7 linked regions of the Homo sapiens genome follow. The protein of the gene in region 1 interacts with the protein of each later gene in a biochemical or structural test. Each region holds a gene or a part of one and is shown in the gene's direction. Other genes may lie near its edges.

Region 1 (3,500 bases):
TCTACCTCCTGGGTTCAAGCGATTCTTCTGCCTCAGCCTCCCGAGTAGCTGGGACTACAGACGTGCACCACCATACCCGGCTAATTTTTGTATTTTTGGTAGAGATGAGGTTTCACCATATTGGTCAGGCTGGTCTTGAACTCCTGACCTCAAGTGATCTGCCCGCCTCGGCCTCCCAAAGTGCCAGGATTACAGGCGTGAGCCACTGCGCCTGGCCAAAAACTTAACTCTTAAGAAACTAGAAAGTTGACGGCAGGATCCCAGCCCTATTCATTTTTTTCCTTTTTTTCCCTAAGGCTATTTTTGTTTGTGGTGGTTGTGACAGTTTTTGTTTTTTAAAGTTTTAAAAATTGTAGTTTTTCCTGTATCATTCACACCATTCAGATATGGCACTGGTCTCCCACAGTCCTTCCAGAGGCTGCCCCGAAATGTATTCTATAATAATATAAACTGAACCAGAGAAAAGTTTCATGAGCTTTTTAATCCAAAAGGGATCATATAAATATATCGCCCTGTGACAGTGTTTTGCTTGTCTGTATGTGTGAGGGGATTCTTGTCAACCTGCCTCGGTCCTTGACAGCTGCGTGGTGTTCAAGGGGCTAAACAAAGCACAGCTTTCGTGACCCCCTTCATGGATGGGTGTTCGAGTCATCCAGATTTTTTCAGCAGTGAATGTCTTCACCCCTGCGTTTCGGGGCCCCTCTGCCAGTGTTTATCTAGGGAGAAGTGGCAGAAATGGCATCCACTCAAGCCTTTGTTTTAGGGCGTGGCACTGACCTGCCTTCAGGGGTGGACAAGGGTGGGGATCCCAGGGAGAAGGCAAGGGGTGCAGATGGCAGAAGCATGCTAGGGTTTGGGCCCCAGGGGCGAGTATGGAGGGGGATACATTCTGGCTGGGTTCTGGGGAGGTGGGGCACGTGGCGGGTATGAGTGTGGGCTCTGTACCAGCCAACTAGGGTGCAAGTCCTGGGTCCACCTCTCACTGTGTGGCCTCTCTCAGGTGGAGGCCATCATAGCACCTGCCAAAAGGTGGCCGGAGGGTTGCAGGGGAAGCAGTTGAGTACACAGTGCTTAGAGCACAACAGCTCTTCTTTCCCCTGGGTGCCTTCAAAAGTCAGTGAATGTGCACAAGAGGGAGTGGTTCATCAGCATGGGGGGGGTTCATTCAGCAAACATTTGTTGATGCCAGGCTCCATGGCAGACACTATAGATTCTCAAGTGATTCAGACACCTCTGAGGGTGAGATAGATACATCTGCAGAAATGTGTAGGGAGAGACAGAATGTGGCAAAAGGTTGGGTTTGAGGCAGTTCAGAGGGAGAAGAGGTGACACCTCCTAGCTGATGCGTAAGGTTTCTGCCCACAGAGGTAGAGGGAGCAGGCGTGAAGTGGGGAGGGTGGGAGGGATGCAAGGGCAGTCTAGATTTCTGGGAAAACGTGACTCGGGTTCCTCTAGAGAAGCAGTGGCAGATGAGAGTACAAAGGCAATGGGGAGCTGGAGGAAGGCCTTAAGCAGGGGCGGCGGCATGGTAAGGTTTGTAGGAGGACTGGCTGCAGCAGAGGCAGGGAGACCAGTGTGGAGTCTGCTCAGCAGCCCACTGGGAAGGTGGTGATCGCCGTGGTGATGAGCAGTTCTTGGTAGCTGCATGTGAGGAGGGTGACAGGTCAGGAACTCTAGCTCAGGAAACCCTGTGGATGGTGGAGGGGAAGATCAGTCTGGTTTTGGTCCGGGTACTTTTGAGCAGCCTGTGAGACCTCCAGGACAGTCCCAATCCTGGAGTGTCTGAACTAAGCCAGAGTGCTTAGAGCTTGGGTTCTTCCTCAGACCGTCTTGGGTACAAATCCTGACTCTACCACTTCCTGGGCCTCCCTGGGCTTTAGTTGCCTTATCTGGAAAATGGGGCCATTTTTATACAGCCAGTCCGTTGAATGGAATGAACTAATGGATGCAAGGAACTTGATGAGCACCAGCTGCTACCATGCGTATAGATTAGTCAAAAACCAGAGAGAAGGTGATTTAGCCAAGGGACCTATGTAATCAGTGGCTTAGCTGGGCATGGTGGCTGACTAGTCCCAGCACGACTACAGTGAAGGCTGAGATGGGAGAATTGCTTGAGCCTAGGAGTTTGAGACCAGTCTGGGCAACATAGGGAGACCCCATCTCTACGAGAAATAGAAAAGTTAGCTGGTCTTGGAGGGATGCGCCTGTGGTCCCAGCTGTTTGGAAGGCTGAGGTGGGAGGATTGCTTGAGCCCAGGAAGTCTAGGCTGCAGAGAGTTGTGATCATACCACTGCACTCCAGCATAGTCAACAGAGCGATACCCTGTCTAAAAAAGAAAAAAAAATAGTGCCTTAAAACAACAAACATTTATTATATAGTTTTTGTGGGTCAGGAATTCAGGGAAGACTTATCCAGCTCTGGCTTGGGGTCTCTGGAGATTCAGCCAGTGTTTGGGTTCTGGCTGCTAACAGAAGTTGTGACTAAGTGTTGCTGTTGGGAGGAGGCCATGGTTTCTTGCCCATCATTAGGGCTACTTGAGTGCCCATATGATATGGCAGAGTAAGTGACCCAATACAGAGCAAGGAGGAAGCTCCAGCGCCTCTGACCCAGTCTCAAAAGTGACAGGCCATCCCTTCCACCACATTCCATTCATTCATCCCCAGAAGCAAGTTACCAGGTCTGGCTCATAAGGGGAGAATTAGGCTATATCTTTTGAAGGAGAAGGATCAGAAAGTTTGCGGATGTGTTTTAAATCCACCGCTAGACCCCAGAGAAGTGGTGAAAATGGAATGTCCTGTGTGGTAGGACTGTGACTCTCAGGCTATGTCCCCTCTGATCTCCCTCAGTCACACACTCAGGCATCCTGCTAGAGAAACTGAGGCGAGGGTAGCCCAGAGGCACCCAGCCTTAAGCCAGGTCTCTTCTGGCCTCACTCCTGGTTACTGGGCATCCTCCCGTTTTCGCCACAGGTGAAGCGGAGGCTGGACCTGGAAACTGACCATCAGTACCTGGCCGAGAGCAGTGGGCCAGCTCGGGGCAGAGGCCGCCATCCAGGAAAAGGTACCTATGGAGCTTGGGCTGGGCAGACCCCCTGTGACCAGGCCCAGGTTAGGGATGTGAACAGACAAACATGCTTGCAAGCTAACGTCTGGCTTGTCGGGCTTGAGCCAGGCCTCTGAGGACCCTGATGGGCAGTTGGAGTGGCCACCTGGCTTGGTTTCTCCAGGCCCTGAGGGGTGAGGAGTTCCCCAGCCAGAAGAAGAATGCTGTGGTTGGCCTCGCCAAGGGGAAGGAGCTGGCTGTCCCCCAGCCCCCATCATCCTGCTGCCCTGCACTGCCAGAGTGGCAGGCCTGGCTGGAGGTGGGGGTGGATGCTGAAGGGCCCTGTCTTGCCTGACCACACCCCCACAGGTGTGAAATCCCCGGGGGAGAAGTCACGCTATGAGACCTCACTGAATCTGACCACCAAGCGCTTCCTGGAGCTGCTGAGCCACTCGGCT
Region 2 (3,500 bases), on another chromosome or scaffold:
CTTAAAAGATGCTCTTTCGCAAATTTCAGGTATAAGGTCCAGTATTATTAGCTATAGTCACCATGTGCTGTACATTAGATCCTCAGAAAGTTTGTGTTCTTTAACCAACATCTTCCCATTTCACCTACCCCCTTATCCCTGGCAACCAGCATTCTACTCTCTGTTTCTGTGAGTTTGGTTACCATACAGTATAGTTGTCCCTTGGTATGCTCGGAGGACTGGTTCTAGGACCCCCATGTATACCAAAATTCGCACATACTGAAGTCCAGAAGTTGACTCTGCAGAACCTGTGCATCCAAAATTCAGCCCTCCAAATATGTGGGTTTCACATCTGCAAATGTGATCTGCATTTGGTTGAGAAAAATCTGGGTGTAAATGGACATGTGCAGTTCAAACCTGTGTTGTTCAAGGGCCAGTTGTATTTGTCTTTCTCTGGCATATTTCACTTGGCATAATGCCTTCCAGGTTCATTCATGTTGCAGATGGTAGGATTTTATTTTATTTTATTTATTTTGAGATGGAGTCTCACTCTGTTGTCCAGGTTGGAGTGCAGTGGCACCATCTAGGCTCACTGCAATCTCCACCTCCTGGCTTCAAGCGATTCTCCTGCCTCAGCCTCTTGAGTAGCTGACATTATAGGCACCTGCCATCATGTCCGGCTAATTACTCTGTTTTTGTAGAGACGGGGTTTCACCATGTTGGCCAGGCTGGTCTCAGACTCCTGATCTCAAGTGATCCACCCGGAGTGGATGGGATTATAGGCGTGAACCACCACGCCCAGCCAGGCTCATCCCCCATTCATCCCTTAGTAGACACTTAAGTTGTTTCCATATAGCTGCTTGAACATGGGAGTAGAGATATCTCTGAGATACTGATTTCATTTCCTTCAGATATGTACACAGAAGTGGGATTGCTAGATCATATGCTAATTCTATTTTTAGTTTTTTGAGCAACCTCTATACTGTTTTCCATAATGACAGTAGTAAATTACCAACAATGGTCAAGGGTTCCCTTTTCTTCACATCTTTGCCAACTTTTGTTATTTCTTGTCTCCGATGATAATAAGGCATCATTACAGGTGGGAGGTGATATTTCATTTTGGTTTTAATTTGCATTTCCCTGATGATCAGTGACATTGAACACCTTTTCATGTACCTGTTGGCCATTTGTATATCTTTGGGAAAATTTCTGTTCAGGTCCTTTGCCCGTTTTCTAACCTGAATTATTTGGGTTTTTTTTTTTTTTTTTTTTTGCTATTGAGTTGTATAAGTTCCTTAAATATTTTAGATATTAACTCCTTATCAAATGTATAATTTGCAAATATTTTCTCCCATTCTGTAGGTTGCCTTTTTATTTTGTCGATTGTTTCCTTTGCTGAGCAGAAGCTTTTTAGCTTGTTGTAGTCGCAGTTTATTTTTGTTTTGGTTGCCTGTGCTTTTGGTGTCATACCCAAAACATTATTGCCAAGACCAGTGCCAAGGAGCTTTTTAGCCTACGTTTTCTTTAAGGAATTTTATGGTTTCTGGATTTATGTTTAGTCTTTAATCCATTTCTAGTTAATTTTTGTAGGTGGTATAAGATAGAGGTCTGGTTTTATTGTTTTACATAAAAACGGTGTTGGATATCCAGTTTTCCCAACACCGTTTGTTAAAGAGACTTATCATTTCAACATTGTGTGTTCTTTGTGCCCTTGTCAAAGATTAATTGATTGTATATGTGGCTTTATTTCTGGGCTCTCTGTTCTGTTGGTGTATGTCTTTGTTTTTATGCTAGTATCATATTGTTTTGATTACTGTAGCTTTGTAATATAGCTTGAAATTAGGAAGTATGATGCCTCCAGTTGTTTTTTTTGTTTGTTTTTTCTCAAGATTGCTTAGGCTATTCTGGGCCTTAAGTTCCGTACAAATTTTATGATTGGTTTTTCTATTTCTGTGATAAAAAAGTCATTGGAATTTTGGTAGGGATTATATTGAATCTGTAGAATGTTATGGGTAGTATGAACATTTTAACAATATTCTTATAATTTAAGAACACGAGATTGTTTAAAAATTTATTTCTGTCATTTTCAGTTTCCTTTATCAGTGTCATATGTTTTTCATTGTGTTTCTCTTTTACCTCCTTGGTTAAATTTATTCCTAAGTATTTTATTGTTTTGGTGCTGTTGTACATGGGATTACTTTCTTAAGTTCTCTTTCAGATAGTTCATTGTTAGTACTGACTTTTGTAAGTTGGTTTTGTATCCTACAACTTCTGGATGGTTTATTAGTTTTAACTGTTTTTGGTGGCATCTTTAGGGTTTTCTATATATATAAGATTATGTCATCTGCAAACAGAGAGTTTGACTTCTTCCAGTCTGATTTGGATGCCTTTTTCTTTTTCTTGCTTAATTGCTCTGGCTAACCCTTCCAGTATTATATTGAATAGACGTGGCAAGAGTAAGCACCCTTGTCTCGTTCCTCATGTTAGTGGAAAAGCTGAAAGCTTTTTTTTTTTTTTTTTTGAGATGGAATTTTGCTCTGTTGCCCAGGCTAGAATGCAGTGGCGCAATCTGAGCTCACTGCAACCTCCACCTCCTGGGTTCAAGTGATTCTCCTGCCCCAGCCTCCCGAGTAGCTGGGATTACAGGTGCGTGCCACTGCACCCAGCTCATTTTTGTAATTTCTTAGTAGAGATGGCGTTTCACCATGTTGGCCAGGCTGGTCTCCAACTCCTGACCTCGTGATCCACCTGCCTCAGCCTCCCAAATTGCTGGGATTAGAGGCGTGAGCCACTGCACCCGGCCAGCTTTCAGGTTTTCATTATCGAGTATGATGTTAACTGTGCACTTGCCATTTATGGTCCTTATGTTGAGGTATATTCCTTCTATAGCTAAATTGGTGAGAATTTTTATCCTGAAAGGGTGTTGAATTTTGTCAAATGCTTTTTCTGTGTCTGTTGAGATGTTTATATTATTATTATTATTATTAATTTTTTTTTTTTTTTTGAGATGGAGTGTTGCTCTGTCACCCAGGCTGGAGTGCAGTGATGCAATCTCAGTTCACTGCAACCTCTGCCTCCTGGGTTCAAGTGATTCTCCTGCCTCAGCCTCCCGAGTAGGTGGGACCACAGGTGCATGCCACCACACCCAGCTAATTTTTGTATTTTTAGTAGAGATGGGGTTTCACCAGGCTGGTCTCAAACTCCTGACCTCAGGTGATCCACCCATCTTGGCCTCCCAAACTGCTGGGATTACAGGCGTGAGCCACTGCACCTGGCTGGTTATATGATTTTTATCCTTCATTTTGTCAATGTGTGGTATCACATTTATTGATTTGCATATGTCATACCATCCTTGCATCTCAGGGATAAATCTCACTTGATATATGATTCTTCTAGTAGGCTGCTGAATTCGGTTTGCTAGTATTTGTTGAGGATTTTTGCATCTGTGCTCATCAGGGCTATTGGCATATAATTTTCTTTTCTTGTGTTGTCCTGGTCTGGCTTTGGTATCAGAGTAATGC
Region 3 (3,050 bases), on another chromosome or scaffold:
TGTTCTCTAACTATAAAATGAGAATGATGCTAGCGTCATCTTCATAGAGTGATTATGGAGATAAATAAGTTAATGCATGTAAACCACTTTCCATAATGCCTGGCACATATTATATTATGTATTAGTAAATGTAAGCACTGGAAGAATCAGTAGTCTTCCTACACTTGAAAATAGTTGTCTTCAACTATTGTTGTATTAATGAGTTAATTCACCTTGTTAAGTCACCTTGATCCACCTAATTGTCAGCCAACATTTATTAACGAAACTGCTAGTATTCGTATTGTGCCTTTTTTATTATGAAACATTTCAAGAATACAGAAAAATGCAGAAAACAATGTAACAAATACCTAAGTATCTATCACCCAACTTTTATAGTCTTATTTTTACCTATATATTTTTTCTTTTAGAAAGGAATGATCACAGTTGTGCCTGAAATCTGTATAGCCCTGTCTCATTTCATTTGTCTCCCTTTACCCACATAAGTAATTGCAGCTCTGAATTTGATGTTTATCAGAATGATACCATGAGTGGTTTTATATCCTTATTATATGTATGCATACCTAGGATTGTTTTTCTGATTTTGAAACTTCATATAAATGGTATCATTCTGTACAAAACCTTCTGGGACTTGTTTTACCACTCATGTTTTTGAGATGTATCCACACTACCATCTTTCTCTAAATCATTCATTTAAATGCTGTAGTTCATTGAATAAGTTTATCACAATGTATCCATTTTCTTCTTGATGAGCATCTCAGTTATTTCCAATTTTTGACTTATAAACAATGCTGCAATGAAATAATTGACATATTTCCTTGTGTACATGTGAGCATTTCTTGAGATATGTATCTAGAACTTGAATCACTGGCCAACAGGATATTCTTAATCTTCAGTTTCACCAGATACTTCCAAATTGATCTCCATAACATGCATACCAAATTATATTCCTACCAGCCATTTATAGGAGTTCACATTTTTTCCATACCCTCCCAATCCTGCCTTGGCAGATATGTTTTTTCCAATGAATAACAATGAAATTTTGTTTTGGGATTTGACAAAATGATTCTAGATTCATCTGGAAGAAAAGCAAGTATAAGTAAGAAATTTAAAAGGGACCTGAAAAACTAAGCAATGGATATATTTAAAAATTGGTACCAGTAGGGATAACCAAATATTTGTTAACTGTAGCAGAAACAATGCATGTTTTTCTCACTGGTTCCACCTTCTATCTCTCAGTCAAGCCCTGCCCAGGTGTGGTAGTCCTCATAGTCTCTCACTGTAGGGGTCTTCTCACATAGTAGACCACTCTCTTGAGTTGAATATTGAAAAGAAGGCTTGGCCGGGGGCAGTGGCTCATGCCTGTGGTCCCAGCACTTTGGGAAGCTGAGTCGAGCGGATTGCTTGAGGTCAGCAGTTCGAGAGCAGCCTGACTAACATGGTGATGAAAAGTACAAAATTAGCTGGGGGTGGTGGCGCATGCCTGCAATCCCAGCTACTCGGGAGGCTGAGGCACGAGAATCGCTTGAACGCAGGAGGCATAGGTTGCAGTGAGCCGAGATTGCACCACTGCACTCCAGCCTGGGCGACAGAGCAAGATTTCGTCTCAAAAAAAAAAAAAAAAAAAAAAAAGGCTTAAGTCCAACTAACTGTTTCCCTGCTGTTCATTTTATCCAACGGCTGGGGATATAGGCTACTGCACATGATGGGTTGATGGATGTGAAATGATAACTCATGACTTTAATTCTAATTTTTCTATATTCTGGTGAGGTTGAGCATATTTTTACAAGTTCATAATCCATTTTCCTCTGATGGGAGTTGCCTGTTTGAATCCTTTGCCCACTTGCTTTTTGGGGTTATTTGCAATTTTTTGCATTGATCTTCAAACATTCTTAATTAATCCCAGGTACATATTATTTTATATATAAGATATATTTTAGAGATATATAGGCTGATAGTATCTTTTCTCAGTCTAAGGCTTATCTTTTAATTTTGTTTATGGTGTTTTGTGTGTGTTGTTTTGCAGAAGTTTTATTGTATCTGAATTGTGGCTTTTGTGTCTTAAGAAATTCTTTACCTACTGTCATAAAAATTTTTGTCTAAAAATTTTATGATTTTGCCTTTCTATTTATCTTGTTAATTCACTTTGAAATTACTTTTGTTTATGGCATAAAGTCCATTATTTTCCATATGGATAATCAGTTGTCTTAGCAGTTTATTGAATGGTCCAACGTTTCCCTGCTGATTATAATGCCCTCTCTGTTATTTATCCTAAATTCTTGACATCCGGTAAGGAAGTCTCCTCTGCCCACCCTTCTCTGTATTTCAAAATGGTTTTGACTGTTCTTGACCCCTTGCTCTTTCTGTGAACTTTAGGATTAAATGATTATGTAGAATTAAACAATCGGGTTAAGGTTTTTTATTAGAATTACATTGAATCTATAGATTAATTTGGGGAAAGAATGTTATCTTTCTATCCATGATAATTCTGTATCTCTCCATTAATTCAAGTCTTTAATGGTTTTTAAAAATAAATTATTGTCTCTTTGAAAATCCTTACACATCCTTTATTGCACTGATTCGTATGTAGTTTATGTTTTTGTTGTTGCTTTGGAGAATAGGCTTCTTAAAATTAAATGTTTAAATTGATCAATGCTGGAGTATATAAATGCTATTGATATTTGTAAAATGATTTTGTCTAATAATCTTACATAATTCTTTTGCTGTTCTAATAGTTTGCCTGTAGATCCTATACGATTTTCTGTGGAGACAGTCATATTGTCCTCAAAGAAGAAAATGTTTGTCTCTTCATTTCCAAGTCTTGTGCCTCTACTTTTAATCAACAGCTTAATGTTAAACAGAAGTGGTGGTGCCAGACATCTCTGTCCTGCTTCTGACTACTATTTACTTTTCTTTCTCACATGTAACTATAACATTATTCAGTTCTTATAACATGGTAAGATAGGTGGAATAGGCATTATCTCCATTTCTAGTTAAAGCTGAGTGGGCCAGAGTATCACTCCAAAACACACAGCTAGTAGATGTCAGAATAT
Region 4 (3,500 bases), on another chromosome or scaffold:
TAATAGTCTTGGTTAACTGTACACATTTCAGATCTTTGGCATCAAAAACTTAACATCTTTAGTCCTTAAATACTTAACAAATCTTTAATGGATACTCTTTCTAATTCTCCATTTCCTTGTACTAATTAAAAATGTGATATGAATGGAAAGTTTATAATTATTTGGGGAAAATTTAACATATCAATAGAGTTTAGATCTGTGTTTCTTTTTTTTCCTGGGTATTCTCTGGAGGGTAATTGATACCTTTGCAAAAGCACAGGAATGGTTTCAGATTTTATACTTCAGTGGATATGACATTTAAAACATGAGGACAATCTGTCATTTGTATGATGCAAATTTTTCAGTGTAAACTACTTTTCAAACCAGTTTTGTGAACTTTTTGCCATATTACAGTATAATGTATTGCTTGTCCTTATCCTACTTAACATCATCTATTCATTAAGATTTTGTCAGTCCTGTCTTAAAGCACACCATTGTATTGCAGTGTGCCCAAGAGTGTAAACATCTTCCTGAATCTCTTTATCCACATACTTATAATCCCAAAATGAGCTTGGATATCAGCGCAGTGCAAGATGGCCGGCTCTGTAATAGTCGACTACTCTCAGCTGTGTCTTCAACAAAGGATGATGAGGTAGGAGATATGGATGATACATTTACCCCCTCTTAAGCTAAAGGTATAATCATATATTGCTATGAAACCTTATACAGTGGCTTGGTTTGAGAATTTATAATTTTTCTTTTTCAATAGCCAGATCCTTTGATTTTAGAAGAAAATGATGTAGACAATATGGCCACCAATAATAAAGAGTCAGCACCATCAAATGGAAGTGGAAAGAATGACTCTAAAGGAGGTAAAATATTTTATTTTTTAATTAAAAAAATTTTTTTTGAGACAAGGTCTCAATTTTTTGTGGAGATGGGGTCTTGTCATCTTGCCCACACTGGTCTGAAACTCCTGGGCTGAAAGGATCCTCCTGCCTTGTGAGCCACTGCACCCAGCTGTAAAATATGTTTAAATTACTAAATACAAGCAAAGCATATATTAGAGGATTGATTTGTGGTCCCATGCTGATCATTAAGTGATAATTTGCAAAGTTTTATGTAGTTTAAGTGTAAAGCTTATGAAATTTATGAAACTAGGTTTTTATGGAGTTAGTGTGATACAGCCCTATTCCATTAAAGGTAGGTGAAGTTGGTGATTTTTTAAAAATCTAGTCTTTGGTCCAGTTCTTTTGAGTGATTTTCAAAAAGTTTTCTTATATGTACAATATATTTTAACATATCCACATGGTTTTAAAGATACAAAAAGACATATGAAGAGTTTCTTCCACCCTTATTCTCCAGCCCCCCAGTGTTATTAGTTCCTTATGTATCCTTCTAGAGCTGCTTTATGCATATATAGCCGTAAATATGTTTTTCCCCCATTAAAAAAAAACAAACAAACACATAGGCTGGGCATGGTGGCTCGTGTCTGTAATCCCAGCACTTTGGGAGGCTGAGGCAGGCAGATCACCCAAGGTCAGGAGTTTGAGATCAGCCTGGCCAACATAGAGAAACTCCGTCTCTACTAAAAATACAAAAAATTAGCCGGGCATGGTGGTTGCATGCCTGTAATTCCAGCTACTCGGGAGGCTGAGGCAGGAGAATCGCTTGAACTCGGGAGGCGGAGGTTGCGGTGAGCCGAGATCATGCCATTGCACTCCAGCCTGGGCAAGAAGAGCAAAACTCTTGTCTCAAAAAAAAAAAAAAAAAAAAACATAAATGGTGGACTACTATACATGCTATTTCATACGCTGATCTTTTTGTTACCTTGGGTAGTGTTTTATATCAGTAGATAACTAGGAGCTTCTTTAGTCTTTTTCTTTCTTGCTTTTCTTCCTTCCTTCCCTCCCTTTCCTTCCTGTCCCCCTTCCTCTCCTTTCCCTCTTCCCTTCCTTTCCCTTTCCTTCTTTCTTCCCTTTTCTTTCTTTTTGGGCAACTGTATTGTATTCATTATGAATGGTCCCACTTTGTTTAGGCATCCATTCTTAATAGGCATTTAGGTTATTTCTACTTTCTTGCTTTTATAAATAGTACTGCAGTGAATAACCTTATACATGGATGTCTTTTAATAGATTTAATATGTTCTGTTTTCCTTACTCATTCTAACCTACCAAAGCTTTCCCTATGACTTACCTATTTGGTTAGTCTCACTCTGTTCATTCCAAATGCATTTATTTAATACTTACTCCAGAGTTTAGGCTTTAAAGAAAACCAAAGGTAAATACAGTTGTCTTGTCCCTTGGTATCCATGTGGCAGTGGTTCCGAGGACTTACCTCAGGTACCAAAATCCACAGATGCTTAAGTTCCTTATGTATAAAATGACATAGGATTTGAATTTAACCAATGCACATCCTCCTGTATACTTTAAATCATCTCTGGATTACTTATAATACCTAATGCACTGTAAATGTTTTGTAAATAGTTATATTTTATTTTTTTTACTGGTACTTTTAATTGTGATATTTTTCATTTTTATGTCTTTAAAATATTTCTGATCCATACTTGGTTGAATCCATGCATGCAGAACCGGTGGATGTGGAGGGCTGGATGTATGTTGTGGTCTGTGTTTTCAAGAGCCTTTGGGGAGTCTGGGCACGGTGGCTCACACCTGTAATCTCAGAGCTTTGGGAGGCAAAGGCAAGAGGATTGCTTGATGCTAGGGGTTCCAGATCAGCCTGGGCAACATAGTGAGACCTTGTCTCTACAAAAAATTTAAAAAATTAGCTGGGCGTGGTAATGTACACCTGTAGTGCCAGCTACTCAGGTTGCTGAGGCTGGAGGATCACTTGAGCCCAGGAGTTAGAGGTTATAATGAGCTATGACCATACCACTGCAGTCCAGCCTGGGCCACAGAGCAAGACTCTGTCTCTAAAAAATTAAAAGAATCTTTGGGAAAAATCAGACACATACACAAATGACTATAAGACATCTCAGAGTGTAGTACATACCATGAGAGTCAGAAGCAGGCAGGGAGCTTTACAGAGGGATAATCACTACAGGTCTTGATGAAATGTCTTTGAAGGGGGCCAGGCACGGTGGCTCATGCCTGTAATCCTAGCACTTTGGGAGGCTGAGGTGGGCAGATCACCTGAGGTCAGGAGTTCAAGACCAGCCTAGCCAACGTGGCGAAACCGCGTCTCTACTAAAAAATACAAAAATTAGCCCGGCATGGTGATGGGCACCTGTAATCCCAGCTACTTGAGAGGCTGAGGCAGGGAGAATTGCTTGAACCTGGGAGGTGGAGGTTGCAGTGAGCCGAGGTCGCACCACTGTCCAGCCTGGGCGACAGTGCTAGACTATCACCAAAAAAAAAAAAAAAAAAGTATTTGAAGGGCTTCCTAGTTATTTCATATACAGTGCTTGTGGTAAGGGCTGCTTTTTATGTTCTGCAGTATTCATAGTTTTAGTACATTACTATAGCCTGTAGTTAATATTCAGTAAATGTCAAGTCAATAAG
Region 5 (3,500 bases), on another chromosome or scaffold:
GATGAGAGGATTTTTATGACATGTCATTGTCCTTTCTTCCTAGTGGATGCTGGGCACAGAGCTGTCATCTTTGACCGATTCCGTGGAGTGCAGGACATTGTGGTAGGGGAAGGGACTCATTTTCTCATCCCGTGGGTACAGAAACCAATTATCTTTGACTGCCGTTCTCGACCACGTAATGTGCCAGTCATCACTGGTAGCAAAGGTGAGTCTTGCCTATGGTTCAGGTAAAGTAGGGAGTGTGGAAGAGGTGCTCTGTTCTTCTGTGTCACAGGAGCATCTGTGGGATACCAGGATCCAAAAGAGTTTGAACTGTACATCATAGGAATGACTAGACTACTTGCCCTGGAGAGCTTGATATGGAATCTTAGAAATACCCACTTATGGCTGGGTGCGGTGGTTCATGCCTGTAATCCCAGCACTTTGGGAGGCTGAGGCAGGTGGATCACCTGAGGTCAGGAGTTCAAGACCAGCCTGGCCAATGTGGTGAAACCCCATCTCTCCTAAAAATACAAAAATTAGCCGGTGGTGGGGGGTGCCTGTAATCCCAGCTACTTGAGAGGCTGAGGCAGGAGAATTGCTTGAGCCTGGGGGGCGGAGGTTGCAGTGAGCTAAGATTGTGCCACTTCACTGCAGCCTGGGCAACAGAGTGAGACTCTGTCTCAAAAAAAAAAAAAAAAAAAGCCTGCTTCTAATCTTCCCATCTCTTTGGAATTTCTTTCCGTACTGTTTTGCAGTTGTTTTCAGGATACATTATGTACCTATTTCTAAAACTATTGATAGGAGCTTCCAGAGATCAGGGAGTTGTAGGTATTAATACATTGCCCACCTCTCTTGGTGCCCAGTTCAGGGCTGTCTCATGGGCGCTTGGTCCATATTGTTGACATCTGTAAGCAAGCCGTGACAGTGCTTTGGCTCCAGGCAGGCCTGAATTGTCCAGGGGAAAGTATAATTCTCTCCCTGGATCCTTTAAATGGTCCAAGTAATGAGAAGCAGAACATAGGATCAGTCTGTTAACCCCTTATATGTGTTACACATTTGACAGAGTGCTTTTACGTCTGTTTTCTCCTTCAATTTTCCCCAACATTTCCGCAAGGCCCAGAAAGCAAATGAAATTGTCCCCATTCTCATAGACAGGGAAATAAGCTCAGGTTGGCTAAGGCTTAGAGAGGCCACATCATTAGTAAATAGCCCAGATCTTTGGACTGATAGTCTAACACCGTTTCCACCAGACCCGAACTAACCTCTCCAAGGCTGACTCCTGACTTGGCCACAATCACCAGAGCATGTAAAGGCCTCACCCTACAATTCTTAGCATTGCCCTGTCTATTGTCTTAAAATGTTCAGTGTTGCAAACTTTGCATGGCACCTGTTAGACATATAATCTGAATTATGTATATCTGAGGGCATTCAGGGGATACCAAAAAGCTGCTATCACTGAAGCCTCTTAAGAAATTATAAACTCTTTATGATGCTCTATTGGGTTCTCTGCCAAGGAAACCAGGCATACCTGCACCTTGCCCTCTGGGATCTTATAATCAGCAGATTTGCTTATAAATTGTAGCAAATTTGGAGCCAGGCACAGTGGTGCGTGTCAGCTACTCAAGAGGCTGAGGCAGGAGAAATGCTTAAGCTCAGGAGCTTGAGTCTAGCCTGGGCCACATAGCAAGACCTTGTCTCTAAAAATAAAAAATAAAAATTGCCAGGCGTAATGGCTCACACCTGTAATTCTAGCATTTTGGGAGGCTGAGGCAGTTGGATCACTTGAGCCCAGGAGTTTGAGACCAGCCTGGGAAATATGGCGAAACCCCAGCTCTACAAAAAGTACAGAGATTAGCTGGGCGTGGTGGTCTGTGCCTGTGTAGTCCCAGCTACTTGGAAGGTGTAGGTGGGAGGATCAACTGAGCCCAGGAGGTCAAAGCGGCTACAGTGAGCTGTGATCTTACCACTGCACTTCAGCCTGGGCAACATGTGACCCTGTCTCAAAATACATAAATAAAAATTGTAGCAAATTGGAGTAGGAGAGGTCATATAAAAGACCACTTGTGGCCAGGTGCGGTGGCTCACACCTGTAATCCCAGCACTTTGGGAGGCTGAGGCAGGTAGATCACCTGAGGTCAGGAGTTTGAGACCAGCCTAACATGGTGACACCCTGTCTCTACTAAAAATACAAAACAGCTGGGTGTGGCGGCGCGTGCCTGTAATCCCAGCTACTCAGGAGGCTGAGGCAGGAGAATTGCTTGAATCTGGGAGGCAGAGGTTGTAGTGAGCCGAGATTGTCCCATTGTACTCCAGCCTAGGCAACAAGAGCAAAAACCTGTCTCAAAAAAAAAAAAAAACAAAAAAAAAACACTTGTTTTCCTACAGTGGTTTTTATTTTTAACTCCAGTGTTTGTCCCCTACCCTAAGATTTACAGAATGTCAACATCACACTGCGCATCCTCTTCCGGCCTGTCGCCAGCCAGCTTCCTCGCATCTTCACCAGCATCGGAGAGGACTATGATGAGCGTGTGCTGCCGTCCATCACAACTGAGATCCTCAAGTCAGTGGTGGTGAGTGAACAGGGGCCTTTAGCCTCGAGCCCAGAGCACCACCCTGGGAGGGTGCCAGGTGGCAGGAAGCGCTTGGCAGTGGGTTGGTTGGGATGTGGCTGCTAGTTTCCTGGTTCCTTTTCTGCTTCCTCATTAACCTGACCTGCCCTTCTGCTCCTCCCTTTGAAACCAGGCTCGCTTTGATGCTGGAGAACTAATCACCCAGAGAGAGCTGGTCTCCAGGCAGGTGAGCGACGACCTTACAGAGCGAGCCGCCACCTTTGGGCTCATCCTGGATGACGTGTCCTTGGTAAGATCCTTCGGGAGACCGAGGAGGGGAAGGGGCTGCAGTTCTCGTTTAGGTGCCTGGCTCCATTTCTGGGTAGACGCTATTAGGTCCTCCCTTCTGCTTTGCTAGATGTGAGACTTGAAAACACGGAAACATGCTGAGGTGAGGCAGTCTCCGTGGGTTTTTCAGTTGAGGGTTCTTTTACCTTCCCCCTGCCACACACATTTTTCTTATGACCTCTGGTTGTATCCAGATAGTCTCTAACCACTAAATGTTTTACCTTCTCCAAACTGTTACCCAGAGAGTGATGCCTTGTTAACCCTGTTTGACACAGGCAGAAACTGCCTGGTAGAGACCAGAGAACAGCTCGGGTAGTCCTTCTCCCTAGCACAGACCTCCCAGCCTGACTCCTGGGAGCTTCCTAACACTTTACAGTCCGAAGCTCAGTGAAGTAAGCTCTGGGAACCCCAGTGAAAGGTGATAGAGTGTAAACGAACGGTTGGATTCCCCCAGGCCTGGTATAGGGGGCAAGGGACATCTCTGAGGCGTAAGCTATCCTCTTGAGACACTATAGCTTGTGTGTTTATATGACATTGGATGTCATAACTCAGAAAGCAATGCAGGCAGGATAGCGTTTCAGGTTGAGGAGGGTGAGGGGAAGGGGTCGTGTTTCTAGATTC
Region 6 (3,500 bases), on another chromosome or scaffold:
CACTTTGGGAGGACGAGGTGGGTCGATCATTTGAGGTCAGAAGTGAGACCAGCCTGGCCAACATGGCAAAACCCCGTCTCTCTTAAAAATACAAAAATTAGCCTGGCATGGTGGCATATGCCTTTAATCTCAGCTGCTTGGGAGGCTGAGGCAGGAGAATTATTTGAACTCGGGAGGTGGAGGTTGTAGTGAGCTGAGATCATGCCACTTCACTCCAGGCTGGGCAACAGAACAAGACTCCATCTCAAATAAATAAAATGGAATCATTTTATTTGACAAATGTCTATTTTTTTTTGAAAGGATCAATTCCCATTTAGTGTATATACACACATTATGTTTTTCCTCTTAATATATGATGGACTCTTCAATGTCAAGTGTTTTTCTACATAGATATTATAACAAGAGCATAGTATTTCATTGTTTCATAGTATGTTAATAAACTACCCATCATTGACAGTTGCTGTTTATCCATAGCTTTTCTGTTTTGTTTTTTTTTTAATAATTCTGAAATGTATTCTTAGAGGTATGGAAATGTTGACTATTTCTAACTTGGGCTTACTCTTTGCTTCTCTACCTCAACCAAAATCTGAAAATATGTAGGTAGTTCCTCGATGTCCTAGGTGCCCAGCTGATGAACCGCTTGCTATCATGAAACCAGAGATTGTGTTTTTTGGTGAAAATTTACCAGAACAGTTTCATAGAGCCATGAAGTATGACAAAGATGAAGTTGACCTCCTCATTGTTATTGGGTCTTCCCTCAAAGTAAGACCAGTAGCACTAATTCCAAGTAAGTTGGTGATGGTTTTTGGAGAACATTTCTATATATAATGTCATGGGTTGTGGGTCTGTATAATAGACGCTAGTAATCTTAACTCTGCTTCTGTTTGAAAGAGTGGTGAAGAGCTAATTTTAGAAATTGTTTGTTTGTTTGTTTATTGAGATGGAGTTTCCCTCTTGTTGCCCAGGCTGGAGTGCAGTCGCATATCTTGGCTCACTGCAACCTCCGCCTCCCGGGTTCAAGCGATTCTTCTGCCTCAGCCTTCTGAGTAGCTGGGATCACAGGCGTCCACCAACATGCCTGGCTAGTTTTTGTATTTTTAGTATAGACCGGGTTTCACCATGTTGGCCAGGCTGGTCTCGAACTCCTCAGCTCAGGTGATCCGCCTGTCTCTGCCTTCTAAAGTGCTGGGATTACAGGCATGAGCCCCCATGCCTGGCCAGAAATTCTTTATTTTTAGTAGAGATGAGGTCTTGTTGTGTTGCCCAGGCTGGATTCGAACTCCTGGGCTCAAGTGATCCTCCTGCCTCAGCCCCTTGAGTAGCTAGGATTACAGGCACGAGCCTCCACATCTGGCTGAACTGTTTTTTTAGGTGGCATTGTTCATTGAGACTGGTGAATCTGACATTTTGATGGGGGGTGGAGGGTTGTCAAAACGCAAGTAATGTTGGTGGCTCGTGCCTGTAATCTCAGCACTTTGGGAGGCCGAGGTAGGTGGATCGCTTGAGGGCAGCAGTTTGAGACCAGCCTGGCCAACATGGTGAAACCCTGTCTCTACTAAAAATACAAAAATTAGCTGGGCATAGTGGTGTGCACATGTAGTCCCAGCTACTTGGGAGGTTGGGGCATGAGAATCGCTTGAACTCAGGAGGCAGAGGTTGCAATGAGCCGAGAATGTGCCACTGCACTCCAGCCTGGGTGACAGAGTGGGACTCTGTCTCAAAAAATCAAAAACAAACCCAGAAGTAATGCTAAACTCTACTTCTAATTTATGTGAAAAATTAAGACAAAGGTAGAGTTCAACTTAGACTTTTTGGTGGAATGTGTTTTTAATGTTGCAAGGGTTAGCATCAATTAATTTATGAAATGGTCCTTTATCCTTATATTTTTTGATTACAGTTTTGATCTTTCAAATTTAATTGATTTCACATTTAATAAATTCAAATGTATAGTTTGGTAGAAGTGTAACATACCATGTAAGATGGAATTTGGGGGCTCAGAATGATTGGTTCATTCTTGTAGTAACAGCCATGCCATAACGGTGATATGTCGATATAGTTTACCCAAAAGGGTGTGTATATAAAAGTGTTCACATAAAATTTAAATCCTTATTACTCTCAGGAAAATTTCTTTGTCATATATATTCTCATACTGTCTGTTTCCTCCTCTAGTTTAGAATCAGAGGAGGAGAGAGAGAGATTTCAGTTGCATCAGATGTGTCCTTTCATAAGTGAGGGAAAGAGGAGAGGAAAAATATTAAATCCCTAGCCAGAGAATTGAATTAGACCCCACATCAGCAGTCAAGGCAGCCAGAGTAAACAGTTGGAAGAAACATGGAGTCAAGCTCTTCAATTTTGTGTCTATCCCATATCTCGTGGCTTTAGCAGTTAACTCAGTCTTACCTAATTAGCTGTGAAATTCTGTTAAAGTAGAATACAAGACAATTTGCAATTAAATGAAACATGAAAATTTAATATACAAATCTCTTTGTTCTTGAGTTGCTCTTCTTAAAGCAAAATCAAAGGCACTCTGCTTAAAAGCTTTTCTTTTTATTTTTTAGAGACGGGTGTCTTGCTGTAGCTCAGGCTAGAGTGCAGTGGTGCAGTTTCAGCTCACTGCAGCCTTCAACTCCTGGGGACAAGCAGTCCTTCCACTTCAGCTTCCTGAGTAGTTAGGACCAGAGGCGCACACCATGCTTGGCAAATTTTTAAATTTTTTTTTGTAGAAACGGGATTCACTTTGTTGCCCAGGCTGGTCACAAACTCCTGGCCTCAAGTGATCCTTCCTCCTCTGCCTCTCAAAGCATTAGGATTACAGGCATGAGCTACCATGCCTGGTCCTTAAAAACTTTTCTTTCAAAAGCTTTCTGTGGGATAGTATGATGTGTTGCAAAGATAATTAAAAAAAGAAACAGGTTTATAATAGCGTAGAATATGTTTATATGACTTTTTCCCTCCCCCCCTCCCCTCCCTCCCTCCCTTCCGTTTGTCCTTCCTTCCATTCATCCTTCCTTCTGTTAGTCCTTCCTTCTGTCCATCCTTCCCGTCCGTTCTTCCTTCCTTCCTTCGTCCATCCTTCTGTCTGTCCTTCCTTCCGTTCATCTGTCCGTCCTTCCTTCCTCCCACCCTCCCTCCCTCCCTCCTATCCTCCCTCCCTCCCTCATTGCCCAGGCTGGAGTGCAATGGCATGATCTCGGCTCACTGCAGTCTCCCGTGTTCAAGCAGTTCTCCTCCCAAGTAGTTGGGATTAGAGGCATGCGCTACCACACGCCCGGCTAATTTTGTGTTTTTAGTAGAGATGGGGTTTCACCATGTTGGTCGGGTTGGTCTTGAACTCCTGACCTCAGGTGATCCGCCTGCCTCGGCCTCCCAAAGTGCTGGGATTACAGGCGTGAGCCACTGTACCCAGCTCACCTTCTTTATATCAGGAGCTACTTAAGTAGAACATTTATGTACCAAGAACTCTTCTGTGCACTTGACTAACTCATTTAATCCTCACCACA
Region 7 (3,500 bases), on another chromosome or scaffold:
GCATGAGTCAGGTAGAATTTCATGATAAAAGAACAACCAGATGAAATAAGAAATAATGATTGGTTTCAAGCCAATGAATCTGCTAAGCTAACTACCAAGTTTTGATGTTGAATGGTCCAGGCAATTTATGTCTTTAGGAAAGCTGAGTGTGGCAAAGGTCACTTGTTAACATTTTTCTTAACAAGAATGTCATAACTACTCATTCATTTTTATTTTGTCCCCACGTTTGGTATTTGTTTTGTTTTGTGTTTTTCCTTCCTGATGTCCTTTGCTTTTGTGGAAGATTGTCCTGTTGATAGGCAGAAACATGGTGGTGATCCTCTATGTAAAATATAGTTGCTTCTTACACATCAGAAGTATTTCACTCATTTTGGAATCACAGGATTTTCATGTTTTCATAAATACACACATTGTTTTGATAATTATTAGCAATTAGCTTATTTTGTAGCATTAGATGGAAAAATGTTTAAGCTAAAGAGTTTAATTTTCTTGATTTTGGTTCCACTTTAATAATTCAAGAGGCCTCCAAGTTCAAGGACCAAGTCCTTCTATTTTAGAATTGTGAAAAACATGGAAATACTCTTGTTAGTGTGTGTTTTGGTCTAAGGTAGATTATTAACACAGAAGGATCCTAGGAGGATTTAAGAAAATATGTCCTTATCGTGAAGTGGCAGTTAAAGTTATGGGACAGGTGAATTACCTATTCATCTTGACTAGCTCAAACAATGATAGCCATCAGCTAATGACTTATCAGACACATGTTGAGTTTGGGTCAAACTCCCATTCAGCTGGAGTGGATTGGCAATTTTAAATGCAGGTAGTTGGTGGTGGTACTTGACCTACCTCCTTACCATGTACATCTGGCATCTTCTCTCTCCTATCCTTTTTCTTTGTTTCTCTCTCCACTTTTACTCTTGCTGTAGGCCTACCAGTGGCACTCAAGCTTACTTCTTCAGAGAGAAGTAAAGAAATTTCTGACTCCTGCCTTAGAACATAGCTAACTGATGATCCAGAACAATTTCAGTATTATGAGGTAACTGGGCAGTTTTTTTCTGATTGCTATTTTCCCCATAGTCTTAAGCTGGCAGTTTGAAGGTATCTAAATTAATGTTAAGAAACTTGTGAACTGAAGAGAGTAAGAAGTATGTGTATTTTAGGTAAGTTACTGGGAACTGAGACTTACTGGTTTGGAAATTGGAGAGTAGGACGAGGAGAGCTGTTTAATGTGTTTGTGGATGGGGGTTTGAGAGGTATATAGAGAATGGTTTGGAAATAAAGTGAGAGGAATTTTTACTAGAGGTAGGAAAAGGTACTATGATGGAGTCCGAATGAGAGTTATTTGCTAAGGAAATGAAGTTGATCTTCACTAAGGAAGTTTCAATAAAGCCAGAGAAAATGGGTCCCTCATTGATTATGAGAAAGCTGTTAGTTACTATAGCTAGAGTTATGATAATGATCATGCATTATACAAGTCTGTTTTCATGTATAGGATGTCTGCTTTTCTGGGACAAATTAGCACAATTGTGGAATGACAGCTTTTCTGGTCAAGGCAAGTGGATGCTGGGGAGTTATTATTTTGAGGAAAAGAAAATTTCAAGCTTTTCACCATTATTCTTTTTAAACTATCAGAAATATTTATCACACATACTATCTATTTTCTTGGGCTCTTGTTACAATGTAGTTTACCTTTACTTTTCAAATGGTCCTTAGATCAAATTATTTGATTTTGTACTCCACAAAGACACATATTATTCCTTGCTTTTATAGAATTTTGAGACTTTGGCCCACACAAATTTCTTAGAAGACAATAAACCAGGTAAAAACACTAACTTGCAATTTTAGGTGTCTTTTTTATTTCTTTTACATTTGCATCCGTAGCAACCATTTAACCTTGTAGACCTTATGAGGCCCTCAATAATACTGTATTTCTAAAATTAGACAACATACCCCCCAAACTCATGTTTCTGTTTCCCTACTTTCTCTCTTACTTTAAAATTGTAGTATTCCCAAGAGTTCAGTGGTGGCAAATGTTAATAAAATAAGTTAGTACATTTTGGAGGTTCTTATATCCTTTGTAGGGTAAGCTGATAGTGTTTAGATTTCTGTTCCCATTATTCCAGTAGTGTTTTAAATTATTTAAGATAAATAATTACTGTAATGTTTGTTTTTAAGTTACATAATTCAAGTATGTTTGGATTAACTCTTTGTTGTCAAATTTAGTATGGATTTATTCCTGGTGATTTGGACAGATTACTTTGAAGTTTCATTTTACTCACATCTCTATATATTAGTGATAAAAATCTCTTTTAAAAATAGCAAAAAAGTGGTTCTGATTTTGTACTTTGAAGGTAATTTTTCTTTTTTACGAATGTCAGGTTCATTAACAATAGCAGGATTATTTTTACTATAGCTTATTTTGTAGAGTTGGCACTTTAGTATAATTTTCACATTTTATTGTGTCAGATTTTAAATTATAATAGTTATATACTATAACTCATTTAAGTCAATGCAAAGCCTTCTTAAATAGCCCCTCCCTTAGAAATTTGTTTAAAAAGAAGTGAATTCCCAAACCTGTGTCAAGAACTTGTGATTTAAATGACTGTGAGACAAGTCCTTGAAAGGCTTAAGTCTAGTCAGTGGAGATAAATGATAGCCCATTTCCATGCTGCATATAGTTGTTAGGGTTTATAAAGTTGTCAATGTGTAAAAGTGCAAAAGCAGGAAAGACTAAAGTTGCCTGTAAAATTTCTAGTTTTCATTATTTGCACTATTTATCTTTGCACTTGATTTTTTGAAAGTTAAGGCTAGTCACTTTCACTTTTGTTTCTAGTCTTTTCTAATTTCTTGCAGAATTGTGTTTTCAATATTCCACCCAAAGCAAAAATTATATGCAATTAAAAATATTTTATAAGGCCAAGAAAATATTTCTTAATGTTAGCTGTATAAAACAAAAATTTGTTCTGATAAAATTTTTAATATGGGCCTTTATTTGCCAATAAAATCCTTTGTAAATGTGAGCTTTATTAAACTGTTTAAATAGACAAAGTTAAAGCTTAGGATAGGGAATATATATGTATGTGTATATGAAATGATGTCTTCGAGTTTTAACTTCCAGCCTGAGATGGCCTAGATTTGGTGTGTTAGTTTGTTTCACTGAAGTCAGTGAGATAGGAGTCTAGCTGGGTACATGCTTAAAAAGCTGGAAGTGAAGTGGGTGGCAAGTGGCAGCTCCCTCTTTCATGTAGTTTTCCATAATGTTCATATAGTTTCCTTATGGTCTAAGTGTTACAACTGGTTTTCAAGTTGTTATATTGAATATTCCTTTTTGGAATTCAGGGTTGAATCACTTTGAGGGGGAAGGGAAGCAAGGGCAAGAGACTTTATTTTAACCAGATGCGGTCTTATGACCTCAAAGATGTGCTCTAGAAAGAAAATAACAAAAAGTGTACCTGTGAACATATTTTTTGTCTTGGTGATATTATGCAACACAGTGTTCAGAA

The links.
Region 2: the proteins of E2F1 (region 1) and BIRC2 form a complex in vitro, tested with the Homo sapiens proteins (2 studies listed by BioGRID, with this or other methods).
Region 3: the proteins of E2F1 (region 1) and SP3 form a complex in vitro, tested with the Homo sapiens proteins (one study listed by BioGRID).
Region 4: the proteins of E2F1 (region 1) and TOPBP1 form a complex in vitro, tested with the Homo sapiens proteins (4 studies listed by BioGRID and IntAct).
Region 5: the proteins of E2F1 (region 1) and PHB1 form a complex in vitro, tested with the Homo sapiens proteins (2 studies listed by BioGRID).
Region 6: the proteins of E2F1 (region 1) and SIRT1 form a complex in vitro, tested with the Homo sapiens proteins (one study listed by BioGRID and IntAct).
Region 7: the proteins of E2F1 (region 1) and PURA form a complex in vitro, tested with the Homo sapiens proteins (2 studies listed by BioGRID).

Annotation. Positions count from the first base shown.
Region 1 is NC_000020.11:33,679,886-33,683,385, reverse strand, and holds part of E2F1 (transcription factor E2F1), read left to right. Parts: intron 1-2,969; coding exon 2,970-3,060; intron 3,061-3,411; coding exon 3,412-3,500. UniProt on the Homo sapiens protein: Transcription activator that binds DNA cooperatively with DP proteins through the E2 recognition site, 5'-TTTC[CG]CGC-3' found in the promoter region of a number of genes whose products are involved in cell cycle regulation or in DNA replication.
Region 2 is NC_000011.10:102,353,714-102,357,213, forward strand, and holds part of BIRC2 (baculoviral IAP repeat-containing protein 2), read left to right. Parts: intron 1-3,500. UniProt on the Homo sapiens protein: Multi-functional protein which regulates not only caspases and apoptosis, but also modulates inflammatory signaling and immunity, mitogenic kinase signaling, and cell proliferation, as well as cell invasion and metastasis.
Region 3 is NC_000002.12:173,900,275-173,903,324, reverse strand, and holds the end of SP3 (transcription factor Sp3), read left to right. Parts: 3' UTR 1-2,550; downstream 2,551-3,050. UniProt on the Homo sapiens protein: Transcriptional factor that can act as an activator or repressor depending on isoform and/or post-translational modifications. Binds to GT and GC boxes promoter elements. Competes with SP1 for the GC-box promoters.
Region 4 is NC_000003.12:133,620,442-133,623,941, reverse strand, and holds part of TOPBP1 (DNA topoisomerase 2-binding protein 1), read left to right. Parts: intron 1-484; coding exon 485-631; intron 632-748; coding exon 749-851; intron 852-3,500. UniProt on the Homo sapiens protein: Scaffold protein that acts as a key protein-protein adapter in DNA replication and DNA repair. Composed of multiple BRCT domains, which specifically recognize and bind phosphorylated proteins, bringing proteins together into functional combinations.
Region 5 is NC_000017.11:49,408,383-49,411,882, reverse strand, and holds part of PHB1 (prohibitin 1), read left to right. Parts: intron 1-43; coding exon 44-205; intron 206-2,409; coding exon 2,410-2,552; intron 2,553-2,724; coding exon 2,725-2,841; intron 2,842-3,500.
Region 6 is NC_000010.11:67,908,656-67,912,155, forward strand, and holds part of SIRT1 (NAD-dependent protein deacetylase sirtuin-1), read left to right. Parts: intron 1-600; coding exon 601-787; intron 788-3,500. UniProt on the Homo sapiens protein: NAD-dependent protein deacetylase that links transcriptional regulation directly to intracellular energetics and participates in the coordination of several separated cellular functions such as cell cycle, response to DNA damage, metabolism, apoptosis and autophagy.
Region 7 is NC_000005.10:140,120,651-140,124,150, forward strand, and holds part of PURA (transcriptional activator protein Pur-alpha), read left to right. Parts: 3' UTR 1-3,500. UniProt on the Homo sapiens protein: This is a probable transcription activator that specifically binds the purine-rich single strand of the PUR element located upstream of the MYC gene. May play a role in the initiation of DNA replication and in recombination.